Linked DNA regions of Homo sapiens. The protein of the gene in region 1 interacts with the protein of each later gene in a pairwise test. Each region holds a gene or a part of one and is shown in the gene's direction. Other genes may lie near its edges.

Evidence for each region.
Region 2: the proteins of WDR12 (region 1) and BOP1 interact in binary tests that used the Homo sapiens proteins (3 or more experiments, as listed by UniProt).
Region 3: the proteins of WDR12 (region 1) and PES1 interact in binary tests that used the Homo sapiens proteins (3 or more experiments, as listed by UniProt).

Annotation. Positions count from the first base shown.
Region 1 is NC_000002.12:202,894,631-202,901,734, reverse strand, and holds part of WDR12 (ribosome biogenesis protein WDR12), read left to right. Parts: intron 1-615; coding exon 616-710; intron 711-2,097; coding exon 2,098-2,204; intron 2,205-4,319; coding exon 4,320-4,435; intron 4,436-5,515; coding exon 5,516-5,670; intron 5,671-7,104.
Region 2 is NC_000008.11:144,274,378-144,281,481, reverse strand, and holds part of BOP1 (ribosome biogenesis protein BOP1), read left to right. Parts: intron 1-5,177; coding exon 5,178-5,258; intron 5,259-7,104. UniProt on the Homo sapiens protein: Component of the PeBoW complex, which is required for maturation of 28S and 5.8S ribosomal RNAs and formation of the 60S ribosome.
Region 3 is NC_000022.11:30,588,854-30,596,840, reverse strand, and holds the start of PES1 (pescadillo homolog), read left to right. Parts: upstream 1-4,930; 5' UTR 4,931-5,007; coding exon 5,008-5,031; intron 5,032-7,570; coding exon 7,571-7,650; intron 7,651-7,987. UniProt on the Homo sapiens protein: Component of the PeBoW complex, which is required for maturation of 28S and 5.8S ribosomal RNAs and formation of the 60S ribosome.

The DNA of each region.
Region 1 (7,104 bases):
ATGTTACAAAACAGATGACCCACTTTCATCAACAAATACATGGCAAGGAGAAAAAGGAGGAGGAACTGTTAAAGATTAAAAGAAACATTAATCAAATATAATGTATGGATTATGGATGCTGATTTTTGAAAGCTCACTGTAAAAGAACATTGACTATTTGATGTTAGAAGGAGTGATTGTTAAATTTTAAAATATTGTGACAAATTTTTGAAGTCCTTATATTTTAGAGATACATACTAAAGTATTTACAGATGAAATGATATAATTTCTGAGATTTGCTTTAAAATAAACCAGCCGGGGAATGGAGGGTGGAATATAGATGATGTCCCATTAGTTGGTGGATGTCAAAATGGGCAATAGTGATGAGATTCATTGTTATTTCTACTTTTGTGTATGTTTGAAATAATAAAAGTTTTCTAAACCAAAATAATTACACCAACAACAGTAAAAAGACATTATACTAACAGAACAAAGTATTTCTGATCTTAAAAATCACAGAGAAACTCAGGCCACACTGGGATAATAGGTACCTGTTTGTTTTGGGAGTTCTCATATACCTCTGCCAATATTACTTTAGACACTAAGAGTGATAATTTTGTTATGTATTTTCCTCAGAGTTCCACAAACATGTGGAGTTTGATTTCCTTATTAAGGGCCAGTTTCTGCGAATGCCCTTGGACAAACACATGGAAATGGAGAACATCTCATCAGTAAGTTCAAATTCTTATCTTCTGTATTTCACTTGAGGCATTATCGGCTATTGTAGGTAAACTCCTTTTAGAATCACACTGAATCTATCTTTAGTAGCAAAGATTCTTTTTAATATATTGGCTATATATGTTGTGTGTGTTATGTATTGTGTGTATATTTTATGTGTGTATTGAATATATATAGTGTGTGTGTATATATATATGTATATTCCTGTATATTCAATTTTGAAGCCCTCTTTTTTTGTGAGAGTGTTTTATTCAAGAAATAAATGAACACATTCTTTATATTTGTGGAAGAACTGGCAAGAAAGGGAATAGCAAATATGTGTGTACAAATACTGGTGCACAAAATAACTGGGCAAATATAAAAACTATGGGTTAAGTTACTGTTATTTTTCCCTTTTATTTTCAAAGTTTCCTTATATTGCTTTTATGATTAAAAATATAACTTATAATTGTTGCTTGTTTTGTGATTTTAAAAATTGTGGTAAAATATACATAACATAAAATTTAGAATTTTAACCATTTTTAAGTATACAATTCAGTGGCATTAAGTGCCTTTGCAGTATTATGCAACCATCACCATTTTCCAGAATTGTTTCCTTATCCTAAACAGAAGACCTGTACCCATTAAACAATGTGCTTTTTTTCTTAATTTTAATGTTTTCTTTTATCTTCTTTTTTTTTTTTTTTTCTGAGACAGAGTCTCCATCTGTTGCCCAGGCTGGAGTGCAATGGCACAGTCTTGGCTCACTGAAACCTCTACCTCCTGGGTACAAATGATTCTTGCGCCTCAGCCTCCAAAGTAGTGGGATTGCAGGCATCTGCCACCACGCCTGGCTAATTTTTGTATCTTCAGTAGAGACAGAGTTTCACCATGTTGGCCAGGCACATCTTGAACTCCTGATCTTAGGTGATCCACCCGTCTCGGCCTCCCAAAGTGCTGGGGTTATGGGTGTGAGCCACTGCACCTGGCCTAAGGCTTTCTTATATTCCTTTCCCCCCCATTTGCAGCATAAGTTGTACAAGGCGATTAATATTTCTTCTTTTTAAAATTTTTGTTAGGAGACAGGGTCTTGCTTTGTTGCCTGGGCTGGACTTGAACTCCTAGGCTGAAGCAGTCCTCCTGCCCCAGCTTTCCTAATGTTAATAGCTGGGACTACAGGTGTGAGTCACCATGCCAAGCTATTATTTCCTAATATCACTCTTAGCTTACAGTTAGGTCAAATAAAGTTCTTGACTTTTTGAATGGCTCCAAATTTGCTGAGTTATAAAGGGGACTAATATGAAGGATATAAAGGAGATATATTAAATTGGGGGTTATCTTCATAATGTAATATTTTAAAACTAGACCACCTGACTTGTTGCTGGTTTCTCTTGTGATTAGGAAGAAGTTGTGGAAATAGAATACGTGGAGAAGTATACTGCACCCCAGCCAGAGCAATGCATGTTCCATGATGACTGGATCAGTTCAATTAAAGGGGCAGAGGAATGGTATTGCCAGATTAATGCCCTTCTCTTTTTTTTGTTTTGTTTTTACCTCCTTCAGTCTTTTTAAATCCATATATACATATTTTTCTGTGATTTAATGTTATTTGTAAATTAATTTTGTGATCTCTGTATCAGTGGCCATGGCAAACAGAAAGATCTTTTCATTCAGTGTCTTCAAGAAGAAACAGGTGGCTGGGTGCAGTGGCTCATGCCTGTAATCCCAGCACTTTGGGAGGCCGAGGAGGGTGGATTACGAGGTTGGGAGATCGAGACCATCCTGGCTAACATGGTGAAACCCTGTCTCTACTAAAAAAGTACAAAAAATTAGCCGGGCGTGGTGGTGGGCGCCTGTAGTCCCCGCTACTTGGGAGGCTGAGGCAGGAGAATGGCGTGAACCTGGGAGGTGGAGCTTGCAGTGAGCTGAGATGGCCCCACTGCACTCAAGCCTGGGCAACAGAATGAGACTCTGTCTCAAAAAAAAAAAAAAAAAAAAAAAAAAAACCACAGGTATTTATTAATAGGTACTCTTTTTCTGTTCTGTTCAATATGTGGTAGTAACAATTATTGTTGCCTTTTTTTTTTTTTTTTTAAACGGGGTCTCTCTCTCTTGCCCAGGCTGGTCGCAAACTCCTGGGCTCAAGCAGTCCTCCTGCCTCAGCCTCCTGAATAGGTGGGATTTCTCTACACCCAGCAATATTTGTCTTCTGAATAAGTCATGTATCTTAGAGCATTTAATTTATTTGGTTCGATTATGTTGCTTTTAAGACCAAGGATATAGTTTGTTTCATAAAGGAAAAAAGTAACTTTTATAGCCATAGATCTCCTGGCCTAATACCTTAAAGATGCATAGCATACTATTTTAGGGCTAGAAGGAGCAGACTGGACTCAGCAAAGAAGGTACAGATATCTTAGGGCAAATCCTCACTGGCCTTACTTGTAGGAAAACAACTCAAGAGTAGATTATGGTAGGAGCTTCTTTCAAAGAATGCCTTCTTGGAGTTATTACATAAAGTTATATTTCTCCTAGTTTTACTTTTAGTTTAAATGGTTTTCACTGGTTAAGTACAAAATACTTCAGGTGGACAGCCAGGCGCGTGGCTCACGCCTGTAATCACAGCACTTTGGGAGCCTAAGGCAGGTGGATCACTTGAGATCAGAAGTTTGAGACCAGCCTGGCCAAAATATTGAAACCTGTCTCTACCAAAAATATAAAAAATTAGCCAGGTATGGCGGTCTGTGCCCATAGTCCCAGTTACTCGGGAGGCTGAGGCAGGAGAATCACTTGAACCCAGGAGGCAGAGGTTGCAGTGAGCTGAGATCGCGCCACTGCCTTCCAGCCTGGGCAACAGAGCAAGACTCCATCTCAAAAAGAAAAAAGAGTACTACAGGTTGGGTATTCCTTATCTGGAAATGTTTGGTACCAGAAGTATTTTGGATGTAGGATTTTTTTTGGGTGGGGGTGGTTTTGGAATATTAACATATACATAGTGAAATATTTTAGGGATGTGATCCAAGTCTAAACATGAAATTCATTTATGTTTCATATACAGCTTATACACCTAGCCTGAAAGTAATTTTATACTATGTATATATATGATATATATTTTTTATATATATATATATATTTTTTTTTTTTTTTTTTTTTGAAACGGAGTCTCGCTCTGTCACCCAGGCTGGTGTGCAGTGGCGCAATCTCGGCTCACTGCAAGCTCTGCCTCCTGGGTTCACGCCATTCTCCTGCCCCAGCCTCCTGAGTAGCTGAGACTACAGGCACCCGCCACCATGCCTGGCTAATTTTTTGTATTTTTAGTAGAGACAGGGTTTCACTGTGTTAGCCAGAATGGTCTCGATCTCCTGACCTCGTGATCCGCCTGCCTCAGCCTCCCAAAGTGCTGGGATTACAGGCGTGAGCCACCACGCCCAGCCATGCCAGGTATTATTTTTAGGAGGTTGAGAAACGTCAAGTGATCTGATCTAGTATGGCTTGAAATCTCAATCTTCATATCAAAAAAGAGTTTAAAAGTATAATCCTCAAAGTTACTTTGTCATTGCCAAAGAAACATTTCAGGGTTTGGAAAAACTGCTTTTTGTGTTTCATAAGATTTTTTTTTCTCATAGGATCTTGACTGGTTCTTATGATAAGACTTCTCGGATCTGGTCCTTGGAAGGAAAGTCAATAATGACAATTGTGGGACATACGGATGTTGTAAAAGATGTGGCCTGGGTGAAAAAAGGTTAGGACAGTTTGCCTACACTTAGAGGAATCCTAGATAGGGATTTGGAAATAAGCCATTTTTGGTGCTGGGGAAGAATGGGGAGTGGGTGGGAAGTATCTCATACCTCAGTTATTATGAGGTCTTTCAAAAAATACAGTGTTCAAGAAGAAAAAGATTATATAAAAAATTCATAAATTGTTAGAAGTGTATCTTTATTAAAATTACATCAGATAATATACATTTTCAAGTTAATATTGAATGTATTACATTCATCTTTTATTTTCTTCTGTTTTTGTTTGTTTGTTTTGTTTTGTTTTGTTTTGTTTTGTTTTTGAGATAGTCTCGCTGTGTCACCCAGGCTAGCGTGCAGTGGCATGATCTCGGCTCACTGCAACATCCACTTCCCAGGTTCAAGCGATTCTCCTGCCTCAGCCTCTCGAGTAGCTGGGACTACAGGCACCTACCATCACGCCTGGCTAATTTTTGTATTTTTAGTAGAGACGGGGTTTCACCATCTTGGCCAGGCTGATCTCGAACTCCTGACATCATGATCCACCCGCCTTGGCCTCCCAAAGTGCTGGGATTACAGGCGTGAGCCACTGCACCCAGCCTGTTTGTTTGTTTTTTGAGGCAGAGTCTCACTCTGTCGCCCAGGCTAGAGTGTAGTGGCTCCATCTCAACTCACTGCAACTTCCACCTCCTGAGTTCAAGTGATTCTCCTGCCTCAGCCTCCTGAGTGGCTGCAATTACAGGCGCCTGCCACCACACCCGGCTAATTTTTATATTTTTAGTAGAGGCAGGGTTTTGCCATGTTGGCCAGGCTGGTCTCAAACTCCTGACCTCAAGTGATCTGCCTGTGTTGGCCTCCCAAAATGTCAGTATTTACAGGCGTGAGCCACCACACCCAGTCATCGTCATCTATTTTTGAAGAATCTTTTCTTTATACCACATCAGCCTTTTAAAACCTGGCCATATGAGTTATCTTTTTAACATCTTTTTCAATAACAACAAAAAAATTTAGTTCTTTGGTTTCAGAACATGATGTATTCTAAATGGTATACTGATTTGTTTCTTATTCTTGTGTTCTCCTTTCTCCAGATAGTTTGTCCTGCTTATTATTGAGTGCTTCTATGGATCAGACTATTCTCTTATGGGAGTGGAATGTAGAGAGAAACAAAGTGAAAGCCCTACACTGCTGTAGAGGTCATGCTGGAAGTGTAGATTCTATAGCTGTTGATGGCTCAGGAACTAAAGTAAGTAGCTAGAATATTATTAGTACTCTGTTAAATTTGAATTTGAGCTTGTTGCTAAACATTTTCTTCTGCATATATTCATTGTGTTGGCCTAGTTTCCTAACAATCGGTGACAAAAGATAGGATTTCAAAGCAAGAGTAAATACTCATACAATAGGAGATAGTCACTTGCTCAGTTTGAATCCCTGGTTTAGAACCTTATATAAACTCCAGAAATTTTAAGAAATGAGGTATGGGCCGGGCGCGGTGGCTCACGCCTGTAATCCCAGCACTTTGGGAGGCCGAGGCGGGCAGATCACCTGAGGTCAGGAGTTCAAGACCAGCCTGACCCACATGGAGAAACCCTGTCTCTACTAAAAAAAAAAAAAAAAAAAATAAGCCGGGCATGGTGGCGCATGCCTGTAATCCCAGCTACTCGGGAGGCTGAGGTAGGAGAATCACTTGAACCCGGGAGACAGAGGTTGCAGTGACCGAGATTGCACCGTTGCACTCCAGCCTGGGCCCAACAAGAGTGAAACTCAGTCTCAAAAAAAAAAAAAAAAAAAAAGAAAGAAATGAAGTAAACAAGCCATTCATTTATATAACCTTCTTACCTCATAGTAATTGACATATTTCCAGTCTATATCAGCTACTCTTAAGTGCTGTCATCAACTGAAAACGCCTAGTTGATAGTCTGAGCATTAGCATACACTAAAGTTAGTGCTAATAGAGTTTTACTATAGTATCAATCTACTCTTTATCATGACAAAATGGTAAAAGTTAGTTAAAAGGTAACAAACCTGAGGGCAATACCATATTGATTTATTAATATGAAGGGTTATAAATCCACTTAGAATTTGAAAGTTTCCTAAGCCACATTGAAGTATTCTGGACTTAAGAGTGTTTCTTTGACAGTTAGGGTAACAGGATGCTTGTATTCAAAGGTGAAGATTTATGATTTTTCATATTGAGCCGAAAAGTTTTATATGTTGTTTAGTCCAAACTTTAGTGGATTAACTGTACCTCTTCTTTTTGGTTAAGGAGAGATAGAAACTCAACTTGAACTTATTTAACCTTAAAAGTAAATGGATTGTGAGATCCAAGGAAAGATTGAACAACCACATCACAAGAAGGGTAATGGTGCATTTGGGCCTCAGGAACCAGTGGAATAGAGGCTTGAATGTGGTCCGCACACCCTCTCGCTGTCTTGTCCCTCAAGTTGACTTTATTCTCTCTCACTTCAGATTGGCTTTCTTCAAAAGACATGGCAATAAGCTTGGCCTTCAAGATTTCCCAGATTTTATGTTCTGTCCTATCTGCCCCTGGAAAAAGGCTAATTTCAGTTCTGTGGAACACAAGTTCTTTGAAAAGGTCCTGAATGAGGAAGAGACCTACTGTTGTAGGCAAATAATATGAATCATATTACATATGTCTTTTCCCTTCATATACATCTGT
Region 2 (7,104 bases), on another chromosome or scaffold:
AAGTGAGAGAAGGCCGAAGACCTGGTATTAAACTGAGAGAAGGCCAAAGACCTGGTATGAAAGTGAGAGAAGGCCGAAGACCTGGTATTAAACTGAGGGAAGGCCGAAGACCTGGTATTAAACTGAGGGAAGGCCGAAGACCTGGTATTAAACTGAGAGAAGGCCAAAGACCTGGTATGAAAGTGAGGGAAGGCCGAAGACCTGGTATTAAACTGAGGGAAGGCCGAAGACCTGGTATTAAACTGAGGGAAGGCCGAAGACCTGGTATTAAACTGAGAGAAGGCCAAAGACCTGGTATGAAAGTGAGGGAAGGCCGAAGACCTGGTATTAAACTGAGAGAAGGCCTAAGACCTGGTATTAAACTGAGAGAAGGCCGAAGACCTGGTATTAAAGTGAGAGAAGGCCGAAGACCTGGTATGAAAGTGAGAGAAGGCCTAAGACCTGGTATTAAAGTGAGAGAAGGCCGAAGACCTGGTATGAAAGTGAGAGAAGGCCGAAGACCTGGTATTAAAGTGAGAGAAGGCCAAAGACCTGGTATTAAACTGAGAGAAGGCCTAAGACCTGGTATGAAAGTGAGAGAAGGCCGAAGACCTGGTATTAAAGTGATGATTCCAGATTTTTTTTTTTTTCTGAGACAAGAGTCTGTCTGTCACCCGGGCTGGAGTGCAATAGCCTGATCTCAGCTCACTGCAGTCTCCACCCCCCAGATTCAAGCAGTTCTTTCTCCTGCCTCAGCCTCCCGCTGTGATTACAGGTGAGCGCCACCAAGCCCAGCTAATTTTTTGTATTTTTAGTAGAGACAGGGTTTTCCATGTAGGCCAGTCTGGTCTCGAACTCTTAACCTCAACTGATCCGCCTGCCTCGGTCTCCCAAAGTGCTGGGATGACAGGTGTGAGCCACTGGGCCCGGCCTTCCCAGATAATTTAAGGAGAGTTTGGCCTGTGCCGGAGCATAATGCACACTCTTGGGCAGGGGATCCCGCCAGCGTCTCAGCGAAGGCTCTGGGAATGGCAGGTGGCAGGCCGCGTTGCTGCAGCGTGGGAACCCTGGGCTCGGGCCCCCTGTCGCTGTGGTTCTGGGGTCTGGGTGCTGGTGCCGTCTGCTGGAGAGTGGTCTGGAGCTGCAGCTCTGTGGAGTCTGGAAAGGGGCTGCCCAGTGATTCTCACCAGCTGGTCAGTGGTGGAGAAGTTGCCTGGGTGTGGACCACAGAGCTGGGGATGGAACCAGGGGCCAGGGCTGGTGGTAAACTCCGCTCTTGCCTCTGCCTGTGGCCTTGCTTTGGGTTCTTTTGAAGACTGCCAGCTCCAAGCTTCTTGGCCCCCATGGGGGAGTCAGGCAGCTGTTCTGCCACCTGCCCTGACACTTTGCAGCATCAAACAGATATTTTGTAGCATTCTGGATTCGAGGGGTCAGAGTTCAGGCCGAAAGCAGCAGGGTCAGTACACCCTGAGTACAGTGTCATGCTGAGGGGCCGGGGAGCCCCAGAGGGTTCTGGTACATTCCACCTGAGGAAGATCGACACTCAGCTCACATCCTGTGCTCTGGGACTTGGGTGAGGATCTCAGGTGAGCACAGCCGGGCCTCTTGTGTGTCCAGACCGCCCCTGACAGCCATGTTCACGAAGGGTACCCCTGTCCAGCTGTCCCCTCTCCCAGGGCTCAGGGCTGCAAGGACGTGGTCTCCTGTGCCAGGCAGAGCCACACGGCCTTCACGACCTCAGCCCAGAATCCTGTGGTGTCAGTGTGGGCTGCCTCCCTTGGGTGGGTAAAGCAGCCACAAGCCCACCCAGATTTGCGGCGGGGGGGACATAGACTCTGTCTCTTGATGCGATGAAAATCAAAGGTTTGTGGCCGTGTTTTAAAATGGTCACAGTCACCCTTACGCTTGCCAAATAGTCTCTTCCCCCAGCGCTCCCCAGAACCTCATTCCACTGCCAGGGTCTCATCTAAACCAGGCCTGATAGATGGGGGTCCTTGGGCCCCTCTCTGCACAGCTGTCTGCAGTGGGGCACCGAGTCACAGTGCTGTGGAGTGGTCTCTGGTCTGTGGTGGTCCTAAGGTGGCTGAGCACATGGCTGGTGGTGGTCTTGGCCATGGTGGTCTTGGCCCGTGGTGGTCTTGGGGCCTGTGGTGGTCGTGGCCCATGGTGGTTGTGGCCTGTGATCGTCAGGGCCCATGGTGGTATAGGGGACCTGTGGCAGTTGTGGCCTGTGGTGATCGTGGGGCCCATGGTGGTCTTAGGGCCTGTGGCGGTCGTGGCACGCAGTGGTCTTGGGGCCTGTCCTTGAGACCCATGATGGTCTTGAGACCCGTGGTGGTCGTGGCCTGTGGTGGTCTTGAGGCCCATGGGGGTCATGGCCCATGGCGGTCGTGGCCCGTGACGGTCATGGCCCTTGGTGGTCATGGCCCGTGGTGGTCTTGGGGCCTCTGGTGGCAGCACACATGGCCAGTGCCTCATGCAGGGTTGGCCTCCATGCCTGGGAACGACCCTGCCACTCTTGGGCTCCTGCCCCGAGTTACCTTCCTTTTCCCTGAGTAAAAAGGGATGTTTTTCGGCTGTATTTTCTCTGGGCTTTTCAGTTCCTGCTGATGTACTTTCTTTAAAACAAAATGTGGGTTTCCTAGGTACCTGTTGATGAGTCGTTGCTGTCACACGAGCCATCGGCACAGAGCTCTTGGATAGCAGCCTGTCTCTGTGCTGGGCACCCTGCGGCTAGCGTGGGCAGGGCCCTAGGGAGCCTTGGCCGTGCTGAGGTGCTGGGTGTGGGGTCTGTGGTGCAGCGCTGGGTTGTCTTGGTGTCCTTGGCACCCCGACAGCGATGTTCTGGCTCTGGTCTCTGGGCAAGTTAGGACTGCTTCCCTCCTGCTGTCCACGTCTCCAGCAGAACCCTCTTGTGGGCAGCCCTGGGAGCAGAGTTCTCTTCCCACCGAACCGGGACACCGCAGCTCTGTCGCCATCCTCTCCCAGGAGGTGAGGGCAGAGCCCGTGTCTCATGCCTGGTTGGTGGCAGTGGGGCACGGCCTGGCTGGCCTGATGCTGGGGAGGGGAGGCTCTGGTGTGGTCACAATAGGGGGCTCATGCGCTTGGACACCGTTTCTGTCTGGCTGAGCCCACTGTGGGTTTCTCCCTTTGGTCCTCATGGTGACATTCTAGCCCTGGGGCTGGGCAGAGGCCACGCAGGGTTCAGGGACTACAGCAGCCTTTCCTTGGCCCCAGCGGCCCCGCATCCTGCTGGCACCTCGTCCTTGCGCTCCCCCTCGGCGGCTCCCTGCCCACCCGTCGGTCCTTCAGACCCGCCTGCCTCTGCCCAGTGGCGCTCGCCCGCCCACTCTCTCAGCTTTTACTTCACCCTCACGCAACTCTCGTGCTCCATCGGGCCCGACCCCTCCTCAGTCAGGCCACGCACACTGCGGGTGGTGCTGGAGACCCTGGAGAATCCGGGCTGACTCCAGGCATGGGCGTGGCGGGAGGGGGTCCTGTCCCCAGGAGTCCGGAGCGTGGCGTGGGCTCATGTTCCGTTGTCTGTGTCGTTAGGGTTTTGGTGGCCTTTTCCTCTAATTTTTAAGTTAAAAAAAATACGTTCAATGCCCCACAGCATCTGCCTCCAAAATCTGAAGGGGCCTTCTAGGTCAGGCAGTTCCCAGCAGTGGCCGCCCCTGCCCGCACCGCCCCTGCCCGCACCGCCCCTGCCCTTCGGGCGCTGGGCCTGGCTGAGCGCCGTCGCCCCCTGGTGGACTCTGTGCCCCACAGCTGTCCCACGGGGATGCTGCGCCCCTGGGAACCCAGCACCTTCGAAGGCCACCTCTGCCCCCTGCCCAGAGCCTGCCTGTGCCGTGGCCTGTCCACATCCAGCACAGGGGCCACGGGGCACAGAGCGCTGGGTGACAAGTCTTTTGTCACCTGCCAGGACCCTGGGACTGCGGCCCATGAGCAGCGAGGCTGGGACTCCAGCGTGCGGTGCTTCAGCCCCGGCCACTGTGAGGGGTCGGGAGCCCAGCCCGGTACCCGTCCGCAGAGGCCAGGCGGGGGCAGCCGACCGCAGCCGGGTGTGGAACTGCCCTTGTGCGCGTCTGGGGCTTGGGGCCGGGGTCACGGATCTGCTGCGGCTGTGGGGGCTCATGTGCTCCAGGCAGGGGCAAGAGCTCCGTGTCACTGAGCGCCCCAGGCCACTGTCAGCAGCAGGGGGAGACGTGGAAACTGAATCCTTCCTTGTTCCTGGCCTGGGAAAAAACTTAGTCTCCCATCTCTCTTTATATTGAAGGAAAAAACAGGCAGGGGAGGAGCCCGGGCCGGAGAGAAGAGGGGCTCGGGGTGGGGGCGGGGGCGTGCCCGCCTTCGCTCTGGGGTTCCTGCGCCCGAGCACTTTACTGCCCCCACGGGTGAGAGGTGGGCCTGTTTTCCCCATCAGCCTTGGTTCCGCCAGTAAACCCGATCCGGTTGGAGCCATCCTCACCTCCGCAGTCGAGGGCAGAATCTGTTTTCCAGGTTGGGATGTGAATTCTCAGTGGCGCCCACTCTGTGACCCGGCGGGATGGGGTCAGCCTGGGCTGTGGACGTGGTGGGTGGGAGAACGCTGGGCAGGCCTTCTGAGTGTTCGGGGCCCTCTCTGGGCCCTCTGCTGGCTGGACTGGGCGGGACGTGGCCCCCGGGATGGGTGGACAATGTGTGTCCCCCGCCCCTTCAAGAGCATTGGCCCCAGTGACCCTGCTGCGACGGCTGCGTCTCCTTCTTCCCCCCGACCATGCTGCCCCCGTCCCAGGCGGGGCTCGGCAGGAGCGCCATGTGGGGCCCCTGGGAGGAGTCCTGTGGCTTTGACATGAATGGGGGTACGGGTGGTTGGCGGTGGGTCTTGGTCCTCAGCTGGCGGCTTTGCTCCTGACTGCCCCAGTGGCTTCCGTGTCTAGCCTGACACCCGTGTCAGCCCAGGGACAGAGGCCCCGGGAGGCTGCAGTCCAGCCCTCACAGAGGACAGGGCCGTGGGCAGGACCTGCGGCGCCGGGTGCCAGCCACAGCCCCCAGAGGCCCCCTTAGAGCTGGGTGTTCTCGGCCTTGTGCTGAGGCCTGTGCCAGGCTGGAGCTGCTCAGAGATTTCGGGGTGGTGGGCTTCCTGGGATCCCCCCAAGGTCAAAGGGTACCCTGTATCCCCTGAAGTGACCATTTTCTCTCTCTCTCTGCAGGCCAGCACTCCTTGCCCGAGGACAGAGATGGCGAGCGCCCGGATTGGGGATGAGTATGCGGAGGACAGCTCTGATGAGGAGGTAGGACTGGGGCTGCTTCCCACTGGGCAGGGTGGGGCGGCTTCCATCACAGCCTAGCAGGTGCTGGGGGTTGGGGCTGGGGTTGCCCTGGGGGTGCTGGGACCTGCCGCAGGTGGGCCGCACTGTTGGAGCCGAGGCCCACGTGGGCGTCCTGCTTCCCCATCTGCAAGAGCAATTTCGGGGTCTGGGACACAAGACTGCAATGTATGTGTGTCATCATGGCTTGTGAAGGGGAAGGACCTGGGTGTGGCTCCATGCCCCTGTGTCTGGCCTGTGGACGGGCTCTGGGGGCTCCTGTGGCGTCTGCAGGGTGGCTGTGGGCTCCCTGGGCGTGGCGTGCATGGTCTGGGTGGGGGTCATGGTCGGGGTGGGGGTCACGGGCATGGGTGGTGCCCCTGTCGTGTGTGCTGTGGGGTGGGCCACAGGTTGGCTGGGGGCCAGGCGGGCAGAACAGGGCCAGGGCCACCTCCTAATGTCCTGATGTTCTGGGCAGTGGTGGCCCTTCCCTTCCCCTGGGGTCCCCCTGCCCCCCACCCCTGGTGGTGGCTGATGTGGGCTGGGGCCGTTGCCTCTGGACCTCTGACTGAGTCCCAGGAGCACATCTCAGGAGGGGCAGGAGGTCGGCTGTTTCTCATAAGGAGCTTGCAGGCGAAGGGGGATGCGTGCTGCTGGGCTGGGCTCCACCAGCGTGGAGAGGCTGGCACCGGGCTGGGCTCCGCCAGCGTGGAGAGGCTGGCACCGGGCTGGGCTCCGCCAGCGTGGAGAGGCTGGCACCGGGCTGGGTTCCGCCGGCGTGGAGAGGCTGGCACTGGGCTGTGTCCAAGAGCAGATTTGGCTGCGGGGGGCTGCCCTCATTTGGGAGGGGCTGGAAGCTCTGAGAAGCTCTGAAGCCAGAGGCAGTGCCTGCCTATACCCTCCTCAGTGTGGCCTGGCCCCAGGGTAGGACTGTGGTCCCAGTGGAGCACCTGGGTGTGAGGCAGAGTCTCCTTTGGGCCCTGGGGGCTGTGGGGGAAGGAGAAGGCTTTGGTGTAGGGCCTTCCTGAAGGAGCTCTTCCTGCCTGCCTGTCAGGAACTGTCCCCGGGGGGCCTGGGGGAGACACGCGCCCCCCTCCCCCCAGGTTCTTCCCCCATCCTTCGGCTCTCTTGGCTGTGGCTGCAGGAGCCTTGGCCGCCCGCCCGATCCGGTCTCTGCTGCGCGTTCAGAGAACAGAGACAAAACAAAATAAATTGGTTTCCTGGCCGGAGCAGCGGGCTCACTCAGAGCGGGGGGGCCACGCCGCGCACTCCCTGCCTGTCTCCCCTCCCCCTCCCAGGGGCTCTGGCTGTCGGCAGCCACATCCTGTCGGCTACTTTTTTATATTTGGTATTTTGAGAAATCGATGATGATTGTAAACGGAGCGCGGAGGCCGGGGGAGGGGCCTCGGCGGGGCCTGTGGGACCCTGCTGCCCCTGGGGGTGCTTTGCCAGGCCTGTCCAGTGCCACCGCCGCCTGCCGGGTGGGCAGCCCCCTGCTGTGCTGGGAGGAAGCCGGCCAGGGATGTGGGGGCTGCTTCCTCCAGTGATGACTATCCCATATGTTGGTCTGAGTGACAGCGAGGGAGCCCGGGTGCTGCCCGGTGCTCCTGCCAGCACAGCCGGCCAGTGGCTCGAGGGGGCGGCAGAGCTCAGCTTTCAGGAGCCAGGCCAGGCCCGGACAGATGCCTCCCGTCCAGAGAAGTGCGCATCTGCCTGGGCCTCTGTTCCCTTGGAGCAAAGTGGGGTGGCCCTAGGGGAGTGATTTGGGGCCACAGGTGGGCAGGAAAGAGGCTTGGGAGGTGGGAGACAGCCTGCAGCTCTCCCATGAGAC
Region 3 (7,987 bases), on another chromosome or scaffold:
TGAGGGAGCCGGCTCCGGCCTCAGCCAGCCCAGAGAAGGGCTCCCACGGTGCAGCAGCGGGGCTGAAGGGCTCCTCAAGCGTGGCCAGAATGGGCGCCGAGGCCGAGGAGGCACTGAGAGCGAGCGAGGGCTGTGAGGGCTGCCAGCACGCATCATCTCTCAGTACTACAGAGTCATCGGTTTATAAAAGATGGTTGGGTCCAAATTATTTTTGACAAAACTGGAACTTGTTTACATGGCTAAACTTTATTTATCCTAATAGGTAATCTAATGGAGGCTGTGAACCAAAATTTTGGGTAGTTTCCATGGCAGTTTGATTTTTAAAATCTTTTTTTTTTTTTTTAAGTTTTAAATGGGGCCAGGCATGGTGGCTCATGCCTGTAATCCCAGCACTTTCAGAGGCTGAGGCAGGAGGACTGCTTGAGCCCAGACGTTGGAAACCAGCCTGGGCAACATAGCAAGACCCCATATCCATATACACACGCACACACACACACACACTTGAAAAAACAATGAGTTTAGGGTTAAATTTTTAATGCTTATATTTTAGCTGGAACCTGGCTGAACTATATAGAAAAAATCTCCAGGTAGCCTTGAATTAGTAACACTGTAAAGAGTTTTATCTCAACACCAGTAGAAAAGTCAACAGACTTAAAGCAGGTAGAAAAATAAAATAGAGAATGTAGAAGACTCTACATGTTAACTCTGTAACTGCAGGTTGACCATTTGAGCTCTGAATTTTCCTTGATGTAATTTGCCCACCAGTTTAAAAATGTGCACAAAAACGGGCTATAATATGTAGCCAGCTAGCGTCCCAAAAAAGCTAGCATGTCTTTGAACTTTCCATGTGGTTTTTAAACATGTAAGCCAAAGGGTTCCTGAAGGTGGTTGGCTAGAGACTGTCCCGTTAGTACTAAGCACCCCCTATAATTGCACTTCCCTTACCCAGGTGACCCTTTGAGAGTACTCTTAGCATAAGCACCCTCACAAAATCTACGAATCAGCTGAGTTTGACCGGATTACACCTCCACCCCTGCCGGTAAGCCCAGGGTCCACAAAATGTTCCCTCCGTGGTCTGAATGGAGGGAATCAGGGAGGCCACCTTTAAACCCAGGGTTGACAAAGACATTCCTTGCAGGGTCTGGATGCAGGGAACTGGGACCAGGCACTGGGAAGGACTGGGAAGGCCCCTGCCAATGCAGGGCTGACAGGGGAAGGTTCCCTCCAGGGTCCACCAATGATGGGAACCCAGCTGGGAAGAAATAAAGTCTCCAAGATCTTTTTTTTTTTTTTTTTTTTTTTGAGACACTGTCTCACTCTTGTCGCCCAGGCTGGAGTGCAGTGGTGCAATCTTGGCTCACTGCAACCTCCATCTCCTGGGTTCAAGCCATTCTTCTGCCTCAGCCTCCTGAGTAGCTGGGACTACAGGCAAGCACCACCTTGCCCGGCTAATTTTTGTATTTTTAGTAGAGACGAGGTTTCACAATATTGGCCAGGCTAGCCTCGAACTCCTGACCTCGTGATCCACCCGCCTTGGCCTCCCAAAGTGCTGGGATTATAGGCATGAGCTGTCGCGCCCAGCCAGTCTCCGAGTTCTTTAACCTCAAGCAGGAGATCTTGGATTCTGATAGGACTTACCCAGACCCTTTCCCAGAGTGATCAGGAGCAAGGGGACTTTGTTAAAGAGTCCTTGTTGGTGCCAGGCATTGTCCAGGGCAACAGGAGGAAACAAATCTGGGGTGACTTTAGAATCTCACTCTCATTATGAGATATGTTAACTGAAAAATCATGAGAATCTATAAATTTGGACAGGAGACTTTTTATTTATTTGTTTGTTCGTTTGTTTATGTAGAGAGCCAGTCTCTCTATCACCCAGGCCAGAGTGCAGCGGCGTGAACACACCTCACTGCAGCCTCAACCTCCTGAGCCCAAGCGATCCTTTTGCCTCAGCCTCCTGAGTAGCTGGGACCACGAGTAGCTGGGACCACAGGTACACACTACCACACCAGCTAATTAAAAATAAGTTTTCCTTTTGTAGAGATGAGGGTCTCACTATGTTGTCCAGGCTGCTTTCAAACTCCTGGGCTCAAGTGATCCTCCCCACTCAGCTTCTGAGTAGCTGGGACTACAGGAACCTGGCCCTATGCCTGGCTGTGTTTTTTTTTTTTTTTTAAGGCGGGGCACAGTTTAGTAGAGACAAGGTATCACTATGTTGCCCAGGCTGGTCTAGAACTCCTGAGCTCAAGCAATCCTCCCACCTTTGCCTCCCAAAAGGCTAGGATTACAGGTGTGAGGCACCGTGCCAAGCTAATTTTTTTTTTCTGAAACAGAGTCTCTCTGTTGCACAGGCTGCAGTGCAATGGCACAATTTTGGCTCATTGCAACCTCTGCCTCCCAGGTTCAGGTGATTTTTCTGCCTTGGCCTCGCTGGTAGCTGGGATTACAGGTGTGCATCACCACGCCCAGACAATTTTTGTATTTTTAGTAGAGATGGGGTTTCACCATATTTGCCAGGCTGGTCTTGAACTCCTGACCTCAGGTGATCCACCCACCTTGGCCTCCCAAAGTGCTGGGATTACAGGCGTGTGTCACCATGCCCAGCAAATTTTTGTTTTAAATGAAACAATGTAAACATACTTAAAGCAACAACTACTTTATGCAGTTAGTGTTGACCCCATCTTACAAATGAGGAAGAGAGGTACCCTGAGGTAAAGTGGCTTGTCCGAGGCTTAGAGGTAAACCAGGTGTGTCTCCCTGCAGAGACTGGGCTTTTCACCGTAATGCTGATGGAGGCTTGGTATTGCACAAAGCATTCTGTGTGTGGGCAGCCCTAATGGTTAAAAACCTCTTCCCTTTATGGAACAAAAATCTACCTGGCATTATCCTGGAGTCACATAACATTCTTTCTACTATACGTTAGGTAGTGGAATGTGAGTTTAGCAGAGGACTCTGAAACCAGACTGCTTGGTGAGAATCTATTCTGCACAGCTTAGCAGCTGAGTGATCTTCAGCGATCACTTACTTTCCTGAGACTTAGTTTCCTCCCTTGTGAAATGTGGTACCTATATGACGGCTATTTTGAGCTGAAATTACAATTGCTTCCCTGAACATCCCCACCTGTGTCTTCCAGTGACCCCTCAACATTAATGTGAGCAAAACAAGGCTCAACTTTCTGCAAACATGGTTCTATCTGTGCAGGACGAGCTAGGTGATTTGTGAGGGACAGGGTGAGATGACTGCCCAGGCCACATGCTCACGACACCAGCCCTGTTCCTGTGTTGCCCTCATGAGCCAGCCACTGCCACCCTCTCCAGTCCATCCCTTTCCTTCTTCTTCTTTTTTTTTTTGAGATGGAGCCTCGCTCTGTCGTCTAGGCTTGAGTGCAGAGTGCAGTGGCACAATCTTGGCTCACTGCAACATCTACCTCCTGGGTTCAATAAATTCTCCTGCCTCAGCCTCCCAACTAGCTGGGGTTACAGGTGCCTGCCACCACACCCGGCTAATTTTTGTATTTTTGGTAGAGATGGGTTTTCGCCATGTTGGCCAGGCTGGTCTCAAACTCCTGATCTCAGGTGATCCGCCTGCCTCAGCCTCTCAAAGTGCTGGGATTACAGGTGTGAGCGACCGTGCCCGGCTTCATCTCATTTTTAACTGTGGAATTGCTGGGTTTTAAATTTTAGCTTTAAATTAGATAGTGCAAGTCACATAGTTCAAAACAAGTATTCACCAGTGCTTAACGTCTGTCTCTGTGTAAGTTCTAAGACCAAGTCCTTGGGCCAGGTCACATTCACAAGAGCCTCAAATTTAAACTTTTGAGATCATCTTCGAACGAAATTTGGAATTTGGAAAAAGGGAGAAACGTTTAAAAAAAAAAAAACCTCTTAAAATTGCATCTACTTCCAGACTGCACCATCTCAAGGTGATGTGACTATTTGTATAAATCTTGGAATTATTATTTGAGGAACACTTACAGAATTTATGTGTACAAATTAAAAGCTCGAATATGTTGAATGTACATTTAATTTTATTTATTTATTTATTTTTGAGATGGAGTCTCACTCTGTCGCCCAGGCTGGAGTGCAGTGGCAAGATCTCGGCTCACTGCAACCTCTGCCTCCCAGGTTCAAGCGATTCTCCTGCGTCAGCCTCCCGAGTAGCTGGGATTACAGGCGTGTGCCACCATGGCCAGCTAATTTTTGTATTTTTAGCAGAGACGGGGTTTCACTATATTGGTCACACTGGTCTCGAACTCCTGACCTCAGATGATCCGCCTGTCTTGGCCTCCCAAAGTGCTGGGATTACAGGCGTGCGCCACCGCTCCCAGCCTTGAATGTACATTTTAAATATACCACGAGTCCACCACTAAGGCTCAGAAAATATAAGTGGCCTCTAGGATCTCTATACCTCCGCGAGGAAAAATGTCTTCCTTTTTTCTATTTTAGCCGCATAACCGCGAATGAACCAAAGAGAACCCGAAGCCGGTGGGAACTCAGCGCAGTCTCACCCTGCCCCTCGGGAACCGCTTCTCAGCAGCGGCAGCCGAAGTCTGACGACGCTTAGCAACCGTTACCTTGACAACGCAATCCTATCGCGCACCATGGAGTGCGGCGCCCCTCTGCATCCCAGAAGGCACCGCGCTGTCCCTAAGCCTTCCGCCCCTCTCCGTCCCAACATGCAACGAGGCTCACAGTCAATGAATCGTCATCAGGGTGATTACAGAAAAGCCTGTATATCCACGTTTGTTTTAACACTTAAAGTGTTTGTAACCATTGTGAGCGGGAAAGATCTGGAAAGAGTGTTCTCAGTGATTTTTTTCAGACTATAGTTTTAAATCTTGAGGAGGAAATCCCCATCTTTCCCTGGACTTGTACAGGCATCTCATTGGGCAGCCCGCACAAACAGACAGCGTGGGGTGGGGAGGGTCCTCGGGGTCCTTGGCAGGGCACGTGCGGGAGGAAGTGGAGCTCCCTGTACGCGCGGCCCTAGTCGGCTCCTCAACGTGGAGCGATGGGAGGCCTTGAGAAGAAGAAGGTGATTGGGAAAGACGGTGGGGATTCCCGAGGGGTGGGGTGCGGGGGCGGCAGAGCATGGGGTCGACTCTTTTCCCGGGCTCCGTCTCGTGGAGACTGGAAAGACGGGATCGACGTGACCGTAATCAGCTGCGAGAAGGGGTCCGAGAATGGACAAGGATGGCAGTATTCGTTTAGTGAAATCCGAGAACGAACTCCAGAGTTCTTTCTGTGGAGAGGGCTGTGAAAGAGAGTTGAACTTACCAAGCGTAGCTTCATTCCAAAAGCAGGCCGAGCCGTGGGACCACTATTTACCGAAAGGGTGATAAACATTACGTAGAGCTCACCGTTACTGCACCGTTACATTAGTTGGTTAGTGTTGTCTTGGAAGTTCTCTTCGAGGCATAACATTTCGGCTGAAATGGGAAAGATCAGAACGTCTTGGATGGGTTCTGGGGCATGGGAGTGCTTAGCGAGCAGGCCTGACAAGGGAAACCAAGTGCCAAGATCAGTAGGCAGGGAAGGCTTGCTGTGTGTAAGGAGTTGGAAGGACATTAGGATGACTCGCATGTAAACCAAGAAAAGAATGGCATCTGATAAGATTGGGGTTGGACACGTACTGTATCGTGCAAGGCCTGTAAGCTTGGATTTTATTCTAAGTGCAGTAGGAATAGTGTAGAGCTTGGATTTTATTCTACGTGCAGTAGGAAAAAAAGGAGGAGTAACACGATTAGAGTTTTTCAGGGAGTTCTTGTGGCTGTATGGAGAATCGGCCCAGTGACATGAAAAGACTGGGAAGGGAATGGGAATGAGGAATATATAGTTGGCTTAAGTGTTTCTTTCAGAGTGAAAGTTTCTATTGCCAGTGTTCTTAACCCAACACACTACATTGAGTATCCAGTGCTAGCCATCGGAACTGCAAAGATACAAGATGGAAAACCTGCCCTTGAGTTGCAGATGTAGATATGTAACAAAATCGTTACAGTTTTTAAAAGCTGGGTTTCAGAGCCAGAATCAACAAAGATGAGTCTTTGTTGTGGGAAGGATTGTCTTGTGTGTAGTAGGATATTTGGCAACATCCCTGATCCTTTACCTACTGGATACCAGTAGCACCCAGCAACCAAAAATGTCTCCAAACATTGCTGAACTCTCCTCCCCCCAGCACATACCCAGGGAGTACCCCATTGAGAACTATTTATTCCCTTAACATTTATAAGGATAAGCATGGTGACAGAGATAAGTGTGGCATAAGGTAATGGAAAACGCTATAAATGAAAACTCAACTTCTTAAGGCAGTCTGAAACTCATCTTTATACCTCCAAGACTTAGCATGGGCCTAATACCTAATAGACAATTAATGTCTAAAGGAAAGAATGAATGAAGGGTATGTTTCATGACTATGATGTTATTAGTAAACGTACCTGTGGGAGACTAACAGGTTTGTCTCTTTAGAGCTGAACCTAGCCAAAGAGGCCCCTGCTGTCTTAGTCCAGAGGAAGATCTTGTTTGGAAACGACATGCTTGTTAGCTTGCAGGGTATTTGTTACAGTGCACTGATTGTCTCTATCGAGGGATACAGAAGTGTGAGGGATACAGAAATGTGGGTGTGAGGCAGCATCTTAGCACCACAGGCATCCAGATGGTTATACAAGACAATAGGCTTCTTAGGGGCAGGTAGAGACCAGGCTTTTTGTCTTTATTGCCTTCATAGCATCTAGCTTAGTGCTTTGACCATAATAGAGGACCTGTTATTGTCTGTTGAATGAATGAATGAGGAAGGGGAGAAGCTGTGTGGCTTAGAGCATGCTTTTTCAGCCAGGGTAATACCACCCTCAAGGGAACAAAATTGGTTGAGGGGCAGTATCTTAGCTATTACAATGGTTGTGGCTCCCCAAGGACTACATTACATAAACAGACCTACAGTATATCTCTGGTATTAACATTTTATGGGGCATAGGGAAGAAAGGGTGATGGGTGAGGGAGGAAGGGGGTGTCTAATAAGTCTCCTGGTAGTGGTGAAGAGGTTATAATGAGGAAGAAAAGAAGGGGAAAAGATTAGGAACACTGGCTTAGCTATTAGGCATTCAGGTACTGGACTCAGACCTGAGTTTGAATCCCAGCCCCAACTCTTAAAAAGCTGTGTGCTTTTTAAGAGTTGCATGGGTTATTTTACGAGCCCGTTTTCTCCTATGTGAAATGGACGTTCGGACAGCACCTACATCACAGGGTTATGGGAATTAAATGAAATGTGTGAAAATCACTAATTGTAATGGCCAACATTTAGAGCTAGTGCTAAGCACTTGGCACAGCACCCTATCCGTAGCAGCCTCGCAGCCCTCAGCATCATGCAGATGTATGTGTTCCCTATGCTGACAGCCGCAAGGATGGTACAGGAGAGCTCATCCAGGCAGGTCGGCTCCTTCCCTGCAGTGTTTCCTCTCCTAGACTCATCTCAGCCACTTATCCAGAGTGATAGTTGCCTCTGGAACTAGGCATGCCCAGAGTTTGATGTCAGTCACTACAATCATTGCTAATGGAGAATTGTTTTTTTCCTCTCCCAGTATGAACGAGGCTCGGCCACCAACTACATCACCCGGAACAAAGCCCGGAAGAAGCTCCAGCTGAGCTTGGCTGACTTTAGGTGAATATAGAGGGACCGTGGGAAGCCCGGGCAGTGAATTGCACATTGAAAACTCAGCTGCATCCCTGTCTTACCTGAGTTGCCATACCCATTCTGGGGTTCTGGTATTCCTTCTCTTTCTCACCGCCCTTGCTTTAGTGAGTTGTGTTTGCTAGGTGTGGTCCAAGGGAAAATGGAGGAGAACTGAACTGGATTGTCAGGATGGGCTAGCTGGGCTGGGATGGGCTGGGCTGGGTCCCTGCCATCCATCCCCTCCTATCTGGTAGAAGAGACCCCTGATCCTGCAACTAGGGGTTCTCATTCCTCATAGAGTCAAAATAAGACTTCACTGTGGCCT